2 separate regions of the Homo sapiens genome follow, and region 1 is linked to region 2. The links come from fine-mapping of genetic effects on gene expression. A gene starts in region 2. The other region holds a variant in brackets. All regions are shown on one strand. Distances are from middle to middle. Region 1 overlaps LINC02734 (long intergenic non-protein coding RNA 2734). Region 2 holds the start of RAB30-DT (RAB30 divergent transcript).

The links.
Region 1: its variant is fine-mapped to the expression of RAB30-DT in subcutaneous fat (TwinsUK, PIP 0.95).

The regions. Positions count from the first base shown.
Region 1 is chr11:82,789,821-82,798,226 of GRCh38, forward strand. LINC02734 (long intergenic non-protein coding RNA 2734) reads left to right here. Exons shown (of 3, transcript NR_183631.1): 2 at 1,769-1,875. Among named protein-coding and RNA genes, the nearest start is that of LINC02734, 13 kb to the left of the region's middle. The variant GTGTA/G (reference allele first, on the strand shown) is at 3,805.
Region 2 is chr11:83,067,521-83,075,753 of GRCh38, forward strand. RAB30-DT (RAB30 divergent transcript) reads left to right here and starts at 4,546. Exons shown (of 3, transcript NR_038903.1): 1 at 4,546-4,626; 2 at 5,103-5,284; 3 at 5,783-6,192. It overlaps RAB30 (RAB30, member RAS oncogene family), which reads right to left and starts at 4,377. Exons shown (of 5, transcript NM_001286060.2): 1 at 4,171-4,377. It overlaps LINC02951 (long intergenic non-protein coding RNA 2951), which reads right to left. Exons shown (of 3, transcript NR_186233.1): 3 at 4,882-5,176. RefSeq lists enhancers at 2,267-2,316, 2,337-2,566, 4,330-4,819.

The DNA.
Region 1 (8,406 bases), 280 kb before region 2:
AACTATTTGCTTTGGAAGTTGCCTTCTCTTCCATGAAGAGCACCTGGCCTGTGAGCACCATGAAGGCAAAGACTGGGTCTTGATCACCTCTGGGCTCCAGCACTTGGCCCAGTGCCTGCTAATAATTCTATGTATAGCCCAATCTCTCAATCCTAATAGAGATTTTACTATTTTCTCTGGGCTTTCCTTAAGTGTTCACATTCCTGTTTATCTCCTCCTAACAAGAATTCAGGCAGGAAACTTCCTAGAATTTGCCCATCAAGATCTAGCAAGGGGCCAGGCATGGTGGCTCATGCCTATAATACCACCATTTTGTGGGGCAGAGGCAAAAGGATCACTTGAGACCGGGAGTTCAAGACCAGCCTGGGCAACATCGCTAGACTCTGTGTCTGCAAATAATAAAATGCTAGCCAGGTGTAGTGGTGCAAGCCTGTAGTCCCATCTACTCAGGAGGCTGAGGCAAGAGGACATGAGACACTAGGCTGATCAAGAAAAGGCAGCTAGTTACGTTTCAGACACTGGAACACACAGGATGTGCCAGGGCTTCCTCACCTTCCTTCTTGTGTCACAGTTGGAGGGAAAAACATATGGTAAGCACCAACAATTATTTGTGCCTACTTATACAGTAAGTGGAGAGCAGGAAGCCTGAATCCACCCACCTCACTCTCTTCCCCAACCCTTTCTGTTGTAGCTAAAGATGGTGAACATCTGACAGCAGGCAGTTTTCACCTTGCCACAGAGGAAACCTTAGGAGTAAATGGTGCCCAGTAGGTCATTTCATAAAGCAGATGAGAGCAGAGCTCTTCTGATGGAAGTGAAGGTGTGAGGTCCAGAATGCCACCTGCTCAGCCCCCTCCTTGTCCCTTGCACTTGGTAGGCGTGGGGTTGCAAGCAGATGGGGAGAACTGGGAAAAGGATGAGGAGGTTATGGTTCATAAAGAGAAGCCACGATGCTGCAGAGCACTGGGGATTTTATATTCTTTAGGGTTTTATTATGCCAAAACAATGGCGGGAGAACACAGTTAGGAATGAATGATAACTGGCTTCCAGGATCCTCACTAACCATGGTGATTATCTCTCAGCCAAAGTCTACAGGCAGCAGACTGATAAGAGACACATCAGTTCTTCTGTTTACAATTCATTTAGAGCTTTTTGTTTTTTCATTTATGTGGAAGCCAGTTTATTCAGGCCTCCAAGATAGGTCTCTAGTCACCAGGGAAACATTTGTCCTTTATCCCTTAACTACCTCTTGACTCCTCAAAACCAGAGAGGAAAATATACCTAACCAGATGGTAAGACAGGTCTGAGTTCACGCAAGACCTTCTTTCAAAGGCTGTGGAGGCAGGAGCCTGTGTAACCGCATCAGCCTGTAGCCAGGCATCCTCCGGAGGCCCCTCTCCCACCACACCCCAGCTCTGGGCAGCTGCTTCCCAGCTGCAGTGCTTGCCAACCCTCAGACTGGAGGGAGGGAAATGAAACCATAGCCATTTATCACCTGTCAAAAATTCAGACTCCACTTGTCCTGAACATCACAGCCAGACACACTAAGATAAGCACCAGTCAGAGGACAAGAAGGGGAATGTGAGGGAGAGCCAAGGGGCCTGTAGCCCACTTGCAGAGAAGAAGATAGTAACATAACAGAACATTTTGCCAGTATCTTCCTGTCCTTGACCTAAATAGGGCAGCAGAGTCTGTGGATGTGCGTTTCTCTAGGAGTAAAATGATCTGGCTGAGGGTTTCTGTTCCACTCCTTCACTGTGCCTTTCAGAAACTTACCTGGGCCTCCTAAGACCTGGCTGCTTCTTCTGTGGAGAGAGAATAATAGGAACATCTGCTTCAAGATTTTCATAAAGGTCAACTAAGAAATGTGACAAGGTTTGTGAACTATAAAGCACTAAACATAAGTGAGTATTAAGAGCATCTAAAGGCTCTCTAGAGTCTGGTTTTGAGTGTATTCATCAAATTATCATCTGCCTGTTTTCTGTTTTGTCCTATGTATGACCTAGGACAAAGCAAAGGAATCAGTGACTGCCAATTGTCATGTTGCCTGGGACAATAGCCTAATTAGATCACCGAAGAAGACTGCAAGGTGGAGAGGAAATCACATAGGCCTGAAGGCAGATAAGCAATTACCAGCTACAGGGCCTTGGGCACATTACCTTATGTTTTTGTTTGTGCACTCTTATCGGTGATATCAGGCCAACGGCACATACCTTCTGAGTTGGGGTGATTGGTAAGCTGTCTAAACTTCCCAGTTGGTAGGTGGAGATAAGCATGATTATGCTTGTCCAGGTCACTAAGACAAAATATCTTGAAATTAGTACTCCTGTAACGAGGGTGCAATTTAACAAACTACTATTTCATATTTTCTTTAATTGCTCCAATTATCCTCAAAACTTACAGGAGAGAGAAGACAAATTTTTCAATTCATGGTATCTCTTTCTCTTCATGTTTAACAGTCTCTTTTGTGTATGTTGGTGTCTTTGGGGTCAATGCTCTTTTGACTTTCTCTCCCTTCCTCTGATCCACCTAGAAATGGCATTTGGGTCAGTGAGGAGGAGCTTACCTGGACTTGCCGCAGTTGAAGAGCAGGGTCCTCACATTTCTCCAGAAAGTTCCTTATATTGTACTCTCATTTGGCCTCTAGACTGGGACACGATGAGGTGTTGCTGATTCCATCATATCTTTTACGGTTATCATACTGTATCTACTGCTTTTGAAATTCTTAGTACTAGTCATTTGGCTGGGTTGCAAAACTCCTATGTGATCTTTATTTCCTTCTTTTTTTTTTTTTTTTTTGAGACAGCATCTTGCTCTGTCTCCCAGACTGGAGTGCAGTGGCGCAGTCTCAGCTCACTGCAGCCTCTGCCTCCCGGGTTCAAGTGGTACTCCTGCCTCAGCCACCCGAGTAGCTGGGATTATAGGCATGTGCCACCATGCCTGGCTAATGTTTGTATTTTTAGTAGAGACAGGGTTTTGCCATGTTGGCCAGGCTAGTCTTGAACTCCTAGCCTCAAGTGATCCACTTGCCTCTGCCTCCCAAAGTGCTGGGGTTACAGGTGTGTGCCACTGCACCTGGCCTCTATGTGATCTTTTCTTTATCTCAAGCCCAGCTCGGCTAGTCCACTAATCTCCTTGGCACATCTGAGCCCCATCACCAAACCAAGCAGAAACTTTCGAATTCCCTGTGCGTCCTGCACAGACCAGGGCAATCAGCAGTACTATCTTACACTATCTATCTAGACCACTTGTCAGCCACTGCTGCACTGTACAGCTTCTGCCTCAGCTTAGGCTCAGTGCTAACCAGAATGCACAACTTCTTCTAGAGGCTTGCTGCGTCCCTAAGCCCTGGACCCAGGCCAGTATTTCTAATGCCTTCAGTTGTCTTATGCCTCTCTGAAGACTTCCATGGTGCACACACATAAACACACACACACACACATCCCTCACACAAACACATATACACACACACCTCAAAGTTATACCCTAAAAAGAGGGGAAAATGAGGACGCTGGTGTTCGTCTGTCTTACCCTACCATGCTCTCTCTCCTCCTTCTAAGATTAACAATGCCAGAAGAGGTGGGATTTCTCTAGTTATTTCTCATGAGTCAGAGCCTTTTCCTATGTACCCTGAGCATTCCTTGTATTATGGTTTATAGTAATTTTTAAAATTATACTTTACTAATGTGTCATAAAATCAATTTAGCAGGCCAAGACCAGATTTTTAGAAATAAAATCTAAAACACAATAAAAAGTGTCAATCAGAGGGCATCTGAAATTTTTATTACAATTTTACATGAATGT[GTGTA/G]TGTGTGTGTGTGTGTGTGTGTGTGTGTGTGTGTGTGTGTGTGTGTTGAGTGATAACAAAAAATATATTTGTTACCATAGATTGTAATCAAAAAGTCCAGGCCAGTGCAGTGACTCATGCCTGTAATCCCACCACTTTGGGAAGCCAAGGCAGGAGGATTGCTTGAGCCCAGGAGTTCCAGACCAGCCAGGGCAACATAGTGAGACCCTGTCTCCACAAAAAATAAAAATTAGCTGTGCGTGGTAGCACATGCCTGTAGTCCCAACTACTCGGGAGGCTGAGATAGGAGGATCTCTTGAGCCCAGGAGGTCAAGCCTGCAGGGAGCTGTGATTGCATCACTGCACTCCAGCCTGGGTGACAGAGCTAGATCCTGTCTCAAAACAAAACAAAAAAAAACAAAACAAAACAAAACAGAACAAAACAAAAACTAAAAATCACTAGCTACATTTAAATGAGCTTGTTGAAAAATTCAAAAATAAATAAATAGAAATTCAAGCAATGCTTTTGGTATGTAAAGATAGCTTAAGACTTAAAAAATCAATCCTGGCCGGGCAAAATGGTGCATCCCTGTCGCTACTTGGTAGGCTGAGGCAGGAAGACTGCTTGAATATGGGACTTTGAGACCAGCATTGGCAACAGAGCAATAACACCATCTCAAAAAAAAAATAAAAAAGGAAAAAAATCAATCTTTTCTGTCAAAAATGTCTGATCTCAAAACCGTTGTTTTACTAGAAATTCATGGAAGAATTCAGGGGTGAAGCTGAATTCTGAGTAATGGACATTTTGCTATGGTGGTATCTACTCTTGCAGTGACAGATGATGACATTGAGTCATTGAGTGAAGAGCTACAAAGCAGCAAGATTTATAATATATTAAAAATAATCTGAATAGTCCAAAAAGTATGATGCCCAATACACTTTTAGAAAGGTGTATAGTATACACCACTAGCAGACCTGGCCCAAAGAGCACACTAGGATTCAATGAGCTCTTACTCCCAGCGCTTTGCCAGACATCCCAGAATCAAGGATATCCTGACTGACTTACATCCTGCCACGAATGATCTATTAGTAATCCTGTGATTATCTTCAACCAAACTGAGTTATTCACCATTTTAAAGGCCAAATTTAGGAGTGAGCCTGCCAGGCTACTTTCCAACATCCTGGTTCATAAGGGGAGCCAAAGCAGGTCTGGAATAAATGTCAACAGATGGTTTTAAACAACTAACTGCAGCCCAGTTTCACCAGAAACATCCACCAATCGAGTCAGGAGAAAGCCTCAGAGCACCTTGTGCCATATAAGTAAGAAGAGTGCCTCAGAGTTTGGGTTGATCCAGAAAAGACCACCCCTCTTTTGAGTTCTGTGCCCCTGACAGGACCCTCACTCTCTCTCCTCCCTGTCCCTCCAGCACTCACAGCCTACACCCCTCCTGCCTGGAGACCATCAGGGTTACCTCATATGCCGTTTACATCTACTTAAGTCAGACACCAAAAAGAGTGTGGAGCTTCCTTGTCCTCTGGGCTCTTATCCCCATTTGGCTTGCTATATTCACTTTTCTGATGCCATCTACCTGGGGAGATGTCTGAGGAAACGCTTCCGCTATATCCCCCTGGAAATCAGAGCCAGTCATCAGCAAATCCCATACATCTTCAATCTTGTACTCTCCCTTGGCCTTCTTGGTCTAACAGACATCTGACTCTCCCAGGAGGACATTGCTTCTCCAGAAACCCTCTCAAGTGGTTGCTGTTTTATCTCCAAACTCCTTGTACCACACAGATCCCTGGTGGGGGTAAAAGTTTTCCTTGCCCATCTTGATGCTTGTTGACCACTTCACCCCTCTGCCTTAACACTCTGCTTTTAATCACATCACCAGGCTATACAATCCCCTATTCCCACTTCATTGCTGTCATCTACTGACCTCTAAGTCATGCTCCCTCATTTCTTGAAGATTATATCTCACTTTTGCTCTCATTTAGTTTAAATCAATAATTTCACTGAGACATAATTTAAATAATCATGCAGCTCTTCCTCCCTGTATCCTGGCTCATGTATTCATTGACCTCATCTCCTCCATTGTCTCACACCCTCGTCTAGCCATCATTCCCATGGTCATGTACTGCACCTTATTATTCCCAATACTTGCAAATTTTACCTAATTTGAGTTTCAAGCAACCCACTCTCTGATCATCCCCCCTCTTATCTTTCCAGTTTGAGTGTCCCAATTCCAGCAAGTTTTTGACCCCACAGAGACCTCCAATCTACAGATACCACTCCTTTTCACCACCCCCTCGCCCCAACTATCAGTACCTGTGGAGGCTTCACTCCCCTCCCTTCCATATCTAGCTTAGAGCATATTCTCATCATCATAATTTCTCTCTTCAACTATATTTTCCCTTTCTTGCTTTATTATACTCTTCTTGAAAAGCTCCAACCTCAGTGAGATTCACCTCTTCACTCCCAGCCTACACCTGAGCAGCTGAACCTGGCTGAAGATCAACACACAACCATGCTGACCAGTCTGATTTTAAGTCCATTACTTTAAGCTCAAGCAGGCCCTTGTAACTGCTCAGGAATCATCTTCCAGATCCATTCACTCTTCCACTTTCTTCACTGAGGAAATAGCAACAGTCACATAGAACTTTCAGAAGTTGCATCACTACATTTGACCTAATGCATTTGTCTGTGCCCACATTCGCCTCCTTCCTTCTCGTTACTGTGAATGGATTGTCTTTACTCCTACTTCAGGCCAACCTGTCCACTTGTATATGAGATGCCGTCCCCACTCCCTTAGTTAAAAAGGCATCATTCCAGAAAATCTCTTCTCCTTTTCGGTAATTCCAAAGCAGTTGCACCATCTTATTAATATATTCTCACCAGTCATGTATGAAAGTTTTGATTTTCCCCCACCTTTGCTAGCATATGCTATTTTCCACTTTTTGTCATTTTGTTATCATAGCCATCTTATGTGTTTGAAGTAGTATCATATGATTTTGATTTGCATTTTCCTAATGGCTAATGATATTGAATATCTTTTCATGCATTTGTTAACCATTTGTGTATATAGGTTTTTTCTAGAAAAATCTATTTTAGTTTTTTGTCCATTTTTTTCTTTAAGGTTTTTATGCTTTGCAAATACTTTCTAGCACCAGACATGTAGAAGAAATTTACCCACAACCTTACTACCCCCAGTAATGTAGCAAGTGTTTTTTGTGTTTCCAAGTTTATCTACACACATAATTTTTTAATTCTTTTTTTAAATTGTGATAAACTATACATAACATAAAATTTGCCTAGTATACACAGTGGCTGCCAGGTAAATGTATATTTAATGAATGAATAAAGGCACAAGTAATGAAATAAAAGTCCCACACCTTAGGCTGACTAGTCCCAGATGCCACCCCCATCTCCAGAACAGTTTCCTGTACTTTTCTGAGAGAAGACTAGAGCTGTTAACTTCTTTCAGCAGTGCTGAGTTAGCAGAGAGAAATTGCTAGCCTTGTTTCCTGGGCTCAGCTGGCTGGGCTCCAAGCTCCATGGCTGGCCCTGGGTTCTGGGGAAAAAGAGAAGGGCAGCTATAGATCACTGCTTGTGTGAAGTAAGCAACACTTGCTTCCGCAAAGAAAATGTCTTCTTTATTCACCTTCACCTCAGCCAGAAGAGCTCCGGACCAGCCAGCTTTGTCCCCAGACCCTTTCTCCTCCATCTCAGGAAGCCGAGAGTCAGAGCCCATTCCCTCAGTTCTGGTGTGTGTGGTCTGAGTCTCAATTCTGTCTAGCAGACAGCATGGAGGACCAAGGTCAGCAAGGTCATCAGAATGCTAAGAGGAAATCTGATTGATGAGCAAGTGTCAGCAGGAATGAATGGGAACCTTAATTAATGACTTCTGCCCTGTTTCAAAGAAAGGTTCTCTTATACCCAGTTCTCTCTTTTCTCTGAAAAAAAAAAATTGGGGTGGGTGAGGAACTGAGGAAAAAAAGGAGGAAAAAACACTCCTATAATCCAAAGTTTTCTAAATGACATAAAGGAGACTTCAAAGACAGGCATGGTAGGTTTTTTATGTGCAAGACTGGTTCAGTGATTCTCTCCTCTCTTTGTTTCCATGGACAGCTAGGCTCCTTTCCAAAGCTAAAAAATAAAAGGCCACTTTGTTCTGAGGGGAGCTAGCTTTTACAAGAAATTTCCTCCTCACCAGTGGGGCAAATTAACTGCCTCAGTCCTGGGTACTCTGGGAGCATCCCTCCAGAGCCAGCTCAGCAGTCCAGCTTCCCACTCCTGCCAGAAGATACATATATGCAAAATCCATATAGTCCACTCCACATAGAAAACTGACTTGATCAAAGTCAGTGTGAGAAGTGTGATAATAGAGGACTGTTCCAGGTTCGTTTGCAACAAAGAGGAGGCAATATCAGCAAAAATAGGCTACAGAGGATTCCTAGAATAGATGGTGTCTGCACTGAGGTTTACCTTCATAATATTAGTCGTAACTCAGCATTGAACATCTGCCACATGCCTGGTCCCGAGGCTGGCTGATGCAGAATATAAAGTTCGACTCACAACTCAGCAAGTCACTTCAAATCTGTGTTCTCTGAATCCTCACCTC
Region 2 (8,233 bases):
CATGTCCAAAGGTCCTCCCTTCGGAAAACAAAAAGACCTGGTTCCCATTCAGTGTTCTCTTTCTCTGAAAACGTCATCCCCAGTTGCTCAAGAAAAAAACTCAAGTCATTTCATGACTCCCTTTTCTCCCTATCCCCCCATCCAATCAATCAACAAATCTTATCAATTACAATTTTCAAAGTTAGTGTCGGCCGGGCATGGTGGCTCATGCTTGTAATCCCAGAACTTTGGGAGGCAGAGGCAGGTGGATCACCTGAGGTCAGGAGTTCGAGACCAGCCTGGCCAACATGGTGAAACCCCATCTCTACTAAAAATACAAAAGTTGCCAGGTGCGGTGGCTCACGCCTGTAGTCCCAGCACTTTGGGAGGCTGAGGCGGGTGGACCATTTGAGGTCAGGAGTTTGAGAGATCAGCCTGGCCAGCATGGTGAGACCCTATCTCTACTAAATATATAAAAATTAGCTGGGAGTGGTGGGTGCCTGTAATCTCAACTACTTGGGAGGCTGAGGCAGGAGAATCGCTTGAATCCAGAGATGGAGGCTGCAGTGAGCTGTGATCATGCCACTGCACTTCAGCCTGGGCGACAGAGTGAGACTCTGTCTCAAAAAAAAAAAAAAAAATACAAACGTTAGCTGAGCATGGTGGCGGGCACCTGTAATCCCAGACAATAGGGAGGCTGAGGCAGGAGAACTGCTTGAACCTGGGAGGCGGAGGTTGCAATGAGCCGAGATTGCGCCATTGTACTCCAGCAAGGGCAACAAGAGCAAAACTCTGTCTCAAAAAAAAAAAACAAAAAACTTAGTGTCTCTCTAAACCCTCTGTCACCACCCTAGATCTAAGCACCATCATCCCTCATACAGACGACAAAAATTATTTGCTACTTGGTCTCTACACATTCACTCTGACCAAGTCTTTCCTTCAATCTCCTCTACTTAACAGCCAGGATAATATTTTAATATCATCCTACATATGCCATTCATCTAGTTTTTTAAAGCCAGGCTAGGTTCTCATTAGCCTTAGGATAAAGACCAAAATACACCTGTAGCTCAAAGAACTGCCTACTCTCTAGCCTCTGCCCACCTCTCCAGCCTCATTCTTCATTCTAGTCTTTCTCCTCTTGCTCTGTCTCTAACTTCCTTTCAAATCCTCAGGTTCACCACTCTTCCCTTTGAACTTTGAACATGAAGTTCCCTCTGCCAGAAACCTTTGTCCCACTATAAGCATCTCCCACTGCCATCCTGAATTACTACTTCCGTTTACCCTCCAAGTCTCTTGAAGTGTCACTTCCTATAGGAAACCTTTCCTGATAACCCTAGACAAGGGGAAAGTACCATGTCAGGCACTCCTACCCAACCCTTTTGGAAATGGCATTCATCACACTTGCAATTATTTATTAAGTATATCCCCTATTAGAATATAAGCTCCATGAAGTCAGGGAAAGCATTTGTTTTCACTGATGTATCCACAGTGCTTAGTACATGGTAGCTGCTCAATCAATATAAATTGTCAGAATTATAGGTTGGGGCCAGATTATAGAGGGCTATAACATCAGTAAACCAAAGAGCAAGGATCATTATCCCTTTGCAAATAAGTAAACCGAAGCAGAAAGAAATGAATAGTTATTTAAGGTCCCAGAGACAGCAGTGATGAGGCCAAATCTAACACTACATTCAGCCCATTTCTCCTCCCTAGGACAATAAAAGAAACTTTGGTGGGTAAGGAAGTATTTCAGAAGAAGAAAATTAGGAATGAGAAGATGGTGCATAAAAGGTCTAAGAGGACAGCTTCTGAATCTGCCTGTTACACTAGTTGCCTCCAGATGGATAGCAGTTAGACTTTCCACACCTAGAGGAGCACTGCTGTTACATAAACAAATATAGCCACTATCACACTCTTCCCGTTAAGAGAAGAGAATAAAATAACAAACTTCTTTCCTGCACAGAGGAGAAGAAACAACCAGGGTGGGTGGGGAACTGTTGTCCTCCAAGTATCTTCAAAAAACCAAATGGGCAGTTTGGCCACCTGGATTGCTACTCAGCAATCCACAGGGAACAGGAAGAAAGAGGGGGGAAAGATCAGCCTTCCCACCACCAGCTGCAGCAAGGATAAGGAAAAAAAAAATGTATTGTATAAGGCAAGCCACTTGAAGACTACTTATTCCTTGGGAATTATGAGAACATTTCATGTAGAGCATTTAAAAACCTTGCTAATCCATAGGCAGGTGCCAGTGAAAGGAAAAGTGGCATGAGCCCAACTGCAGCATTTCATTGTTCACATGCTGCTGGGGCTAAATTATGTCTGTCACAGGAACTACAAACCAGACCAGGGGTCAGGCTCATTGCTGCTCATCCTGCCAAGCACAGACTGCAAGAAAAAGAAAAGGCAAAGAAATTCTCTTCAAAGAGGATTCTGCAAAAATATTCACATAGTCTACATCCACCCAGGAGTTCCTAGTTGAAGTGGAGGACCAGGGAGTGTGTTCTAAGATTGAAGAGAAAGAGATGTGATATGCTGGTGATAAAGGAGGGGTTTTGAAACAGAAAGGAAAAATGTAAACTGCAAATGGAGAGATAGAGAAATAAACAGAATTTCAAGAGATGTGGGTGGGATGGGGTGGGGTGGGGGGAAGAAATGAAAGTACAGGAGAGAAGGGTAGGGTGTCCAGAAGAGCAGAGCGTCATCAACAGAGAGACGCAGAGGCAAAGGCTAACTGTTGATCTTTTCCCAAATCCAAAAGCTGCTCATTGGCATCCCAATAAATCACTCTACTACAAAGCCCATACAATGGACTGTCCTTTGCATTCAGCATCAAGCAGCATTTAATGAAATATCACACAGCTACAACTTTGGAGACCTAAGGATCTGAATTTAAAATGAACAAAATTGGCTTAGCAGCAGAAGACAGCCAGTAAAGAATTTCGCCCATGTCTGACTCAGCTAGGAAAAGGTTTAGCATTCTAGAGTTAAGCAAATACTCTGGCATTTCTCCTTCTTTTGACATTCCAAGAGGGGGTGTGGTTGACCCCAGGCCCATTCATTTCCAAGGGTGTAGATCTCTCAGCCAAGACTGGCCCCATCTGTTGTGGAGCCAGCCAGCTGTTTATCTCAAAGTAACATATCTATTGCCCTAATTATCCCTATAACTCTTACAAGAGCATCATGTAAGTCAGAATGCTTTCTCTCCTGTTAAATGTCAGTTCGTTTAAAAAAACAACAATAACAAAACAACCAAAATCACTCTTCCATGGGCACCTTTCAGTAATGGCAAATGAAGGTTAACAGCGCTTCTAACTTTCCCTTTCTCTAATGTGTTAAAATGAACCCCTCTTCCCTAATCGATCTCTTCAAACCGTTATTTGTGAGTAGTGACTATGCCTCAGGAAACAGCAGCTCATTATGGTACCATTGTCAGTGGCAAAGAGCCTATGCAATGTAATTTAAAACACACAAGCACAAATCTGTCGGCTCCACTTCCAAACAATCTTGAATCCAGCAGTCGGAGAACGGAAAACATTTAACAAAAACGCTGCTTCCAGCAGCCTGAAAGAACCTTCGCCAGACACGTGAAATGTTTCTGACTGGCACGGAGTGCACCATTAAAGGACACTGTCACCTCAAATCAGCAGAAAAGGCGAGACAAACCACATAGACATACACACATAAAATAAAGCCCTACAAAACTTAAGCACGTTCATCTTAAAAATTAATAACTAGTGCTCGTCCAAGCGACATTCAAATGTTCTAAAGTAGTGCGACCACATTAATTCACTGTCTCCATTTCTCCCCACGCATCACCCCTTCCCACTCAAACCTCAGCTCTCGGGCCGTGTGTGACAGGACTGCAGTCCCCCACCTCTGCCTTCCTCAGATTTTCCAAGAGCACTCCCCAACATCCTTCCCAGCCCAGCCCCCTCTCTCCGCCTCAAAAAGGTTGAGAGGAGTTGCGACTAGGGAATTGGCAGGCACCCGTCCTCTGGCGGGGGAAGGTTGCTGGAGTTGTTCTTTGCAGTGACCCAAATGGCACAGAGCTTTTCCCCTTAGCTGTGCCTGCAAGCCTCTCCCCAATCCCCCCCACCTCCCCACCGCTCACAGCTTCCCAAAAGAAAGCCTTGAGAACTAAGCGGGAGGAATAACTTGGTAGAAGCATTTGAATAAATCACTTCAACTCACCTGGTTTGGGATTTTTCTCCCCACCCCAGGCATAAACAGAAATGGATGTGCGAATGAGTCACGCACGCAAGGGAAGGTCTGCGATGTCCTGAGTCCAAGGGCTGGAGTCAGTCCCTGCCCTGGTGCTGCTGCTACACTTAGCTCAGCTGGAGCGAGCGGCAATCGCAAGCCCAGCAGCAGCAGGGGGTGGAGAGACCGTAGCACAATGAATGCAGTGGGGCTTTTGCAATGACATCATCCCTCTGTCCAAACGTCCCCAATAGCCATGCTCGGGAGCGGTGCTTTCTGGGAACTGTAGTCTTCTTACGTCCTGAAGGGATACCCAGGCAATCCCCGAAACTACAATGCCCAAAATGCTCCAAGTGGGACGCGCCCAGAGTGAAGGAGCAAAGGGGACTCGGCCGCCATGTTAGGAGTACTGGGACGATTCCGCGGAGCCGGGCAGAGGTTTTAGGGGTGCGCAGGAGTCAAGTGGTGGTTCAGTGGGGACGGTGAGGTGGAGGACGATCTGGTCGGATAGCCGCGGGCACGAACCTGGGAACCAGAGGGTGGAGGCCATGCTGGGGACTGATGTAGGGCGGGACCGACTGGAAGCGGCATCCAGAGGCCCAGTGAGCCTCGGTCTCAGCTCCTGAAGGGGTTGCATGGGGCCCTACGCTTCCTTCTCCATTTTTTAGCTAAGAGATTGAGAGAGTCGGTTTACTTTTGGGCTTGGAGTATCATTTAGATCTGTTAACAGTACAGTTGAGAGAGTTGGTGTCTTTTGTTGAGGTGCGAGGACCCGAGGCGGCGACCCTCGCCTTTATTCGGAGAAGCCCACTTCCACCCACAGAGTTGGGGTAGTCCTCCGAAATGCATTTTTGTTTTGCCGTTTGTTTTCCAACCCCCTTTCACTCTCCCCAAAGCTTCAGATTCACTGATTTTTCATACAGGAATGATTAACAAAGGCGTCCGAAGAAATCGTTGTTGGAAGGTGACCAAGGTGGAAAGAGACGTTGCTTTGGCCCTGCAAGTAAGAAGAGAGAGGGAATAGCCTGAAGGAGTAACACTAAATTTAAAATGACACTTTTTTACCAACCAGCGAAAGCAGATGTTCAAAGGGGATATTGGCCAGGTGCGGTCGCTCACGCCTTTAATCCCAGCACTTTGGGGGCAGACGCGGGGAGATAGCGTGATTCTAGGAGTTCAACCCCAGCCTGGGCAACATGCGGAGACCCCGTACCGTCTCTACAAAAACATTAAACAAAAAAATTAGCTGGGCATGGTGGTGTACCCCTGTAGTTGCAGCTACACTAGAGGCTGAGGTGGGAGGATCGCTTGAGCCCGGGATGTTGAGGCTGCAGTGAGCCTCGATCCTACCACTGTGCTCCAGCCTGGGCGACAGCAAGCCCGTGTCTCAGAAAAGGCGGGAGGGGTGGGATATTATTGATGATAGGCCTTCTGACGTCTGGCAATAGATTCCAGAGTAACATCGGTCATGGATAAATTTTTTTTTTAACTAAGTGACTGAAACCAAAGTTAATTGTCTTTTGAGTGATTTTGCACAGTATCTCAAAATGAACTGTACTTTTTTTCTTGTGTCACTGAAACAGTGCTGTGTGTTCTTTTTCAGAGTCTGTCACACTAAGATGAGAAATGTCCTTTCTTCCTGAAGGTGTCTGATGTGTAAAAATATGATATACTTTGTGCTGTTTCCTCCCTTCCCTTTTGCATATTATTCTGAAACAACATTAACTAGTTACTTTGCGTCATTGAAGGTATGCACTTCCCCTCTATGTTAGGAGTGAATAAAATTAAAAATAGATCCTTATAACAAAGAAAGGCAGATAGAATGATTAAAAATGACCAAAACATGTTAGAAACAGTCTCTCAGGTGTATGCAGATGGTAATTACAAAAATACTTTTTCAAAAAATGATCTTCTGTGTCATGTTTCTGGGAACAAGTCAAGATGAATGAGTTTGATTTTTAAGCAGAAGTAGTATGTGTTGGTGTCATCCATGAATACAACAATGAAAAAGGCTCAAAGTTGTTGTTATTCAGAAACTTCTCTAAGTAATGGTGGTAAGTACAGGAAAAGGAGCAATGTCTACCATTTTCTTTCTAACCTTCGATTTAACTATTGTAATGTTGTAAGCTTAACAGAGACTTACACTTAGGCTTAATTTCAAGCTCTTCAATCATTTTTCCCGGTTGGTGATTCAGGTGTATTCTCATGTCTTATGTAAACTTATCATGAGTGTTGTTGATTTATAATATATTTCTTTATGTAAGCCATAGCCTTGTCAGTTTGAGTTATATGGAAGACAAATTGTAGGGAAAAAGAGCAACAGATTACTCAGAAACCTTCTGTGTGAGCTGGGCATAGTAGTGCATGCCAGTAGGCTTAGCTACTTGGGAGGCTGAGGCAGGAGGATCACTTGATCCCATTAGTTTGAGGCTGCAGTGAGCTATGATTGTGTCACTGTACTCCAATCTGGACAACAGTGAGACTATGTCTGTTTTTAAAAAAGAAAGAAAGCTTGTGTTTGAGAAGTGATACCTCTAGAATACAGTGATTTCTATAATTTGTCATGTGTTTGGGTAGTTTGAAGTTTTTCTATCCTTGTATCTAATGGACATCTGACCATAAAGATGAAAAAATCCTGCACTCATTATAAATTTTATTTATAAAATTGATATTTGAGGAGTTGGGGAGGCCAGCTTCTGAAAAAATAACAGTGTCCCATAGAAACACCACAACTTAGGAAAATATTGTTAAAGTGGAATTAGGAATATCTAGAGGAGGTAAAGCTTTTCATCTCTCAAAAAAGAATTAGGGCCAGGCACAGTGGCTGACACCTGTAATCCTAGCACTTTGGGAGGCCGAGATGGGCACATCACTTGGGGCCAGGAGTTCAAGACCAGCCTGGCCAACATGGCGAAACCCCATCTCCAAGAAATAGAAAAGTTAGCCAGGTGTGGTGGCGTGCGCCTGTAATACCAGCTACTAGGGTGGCTGAGGCAGGAGAATCGCTTGAACTGGGGAGGTGGAGGTGGCAGTGAGCAGAGATTGAGCCACTGTACTCCAGCCTGGGCAACAGCAAGACCCTATCTCAAAAAAATAATAAAGAGAATTAGGACATGGATTTGTATTAAAATTATAGGTAGCTCATTTAAGAGTATGAAGCCAATTGCTGTTAGAGCAAGGGTTTTTTTCAGTAGAGGTGTCAGGATAACCTATACAGCTCTAAAAGTATATGGCTGTTACCTTCCCATCCCTGTTGAAATCTCCAGGGTTAGAACCAAGTATTGTGTTTTTAAAACTATAGGTGAGTCTACAAGAGTTGGGTGGAGTAGTCCTCTACATCCTGTGTTTGTATTTTTGCAGTAAGTCACACAATAACAAAAGCTTTGAGAAAGATTTTAGGTTTATTGCTAATTATACCCATGAATGAATTCTGAAAATGTGTAGATAAGGAATTTACCTGGTGAACGGTTTACACATGGCAATTGTGGGAGGGAGAGGGGAGTGAGAGGAGATGAGATCAGTTTTAGCTTTAAGAGGACCAACCGGGCCAAGCACGGTGGCTCACGCCTGTAATCCCAGCACTTTGGGGCCGAGGTGGGTGGATCACGAGGTCAGCAGTTCAAGACCAGCCTGACCAACATGGTGAAACCCCGTCTCTACTAAACATACAAAAAATTAACTGAGTGTGGTGGCGGGTGCCTGTAATCCCAGCGACTTGGGAGGCTGAGGCAGGAGAATCGCTTGAAACTGGAAGGCGGAGGTTGCAGTGATCCGAGATTGTGCTAATGCACTCTAGCCCGGGCAATAACAGCAAAACTCCCGTTTAAAAAAAAAAAAAAAAAAGGGACCAACCATGATATCCTGACTAACCTGTATATTTCTTAGAATGAGGGTTTAGCCTAATATTAAGAAAGTCTAATGTTAAGAGACACCTAGTAAGAGCTCAACGCTGTGGTAAAATTATGATAGTTATGCAGAAACTTAAAAGCTGAAGTATCCAGAGACAATATATTGTTTAGAATTTTCTGAAAATAAAAATTTTCTTGCCCTAAGT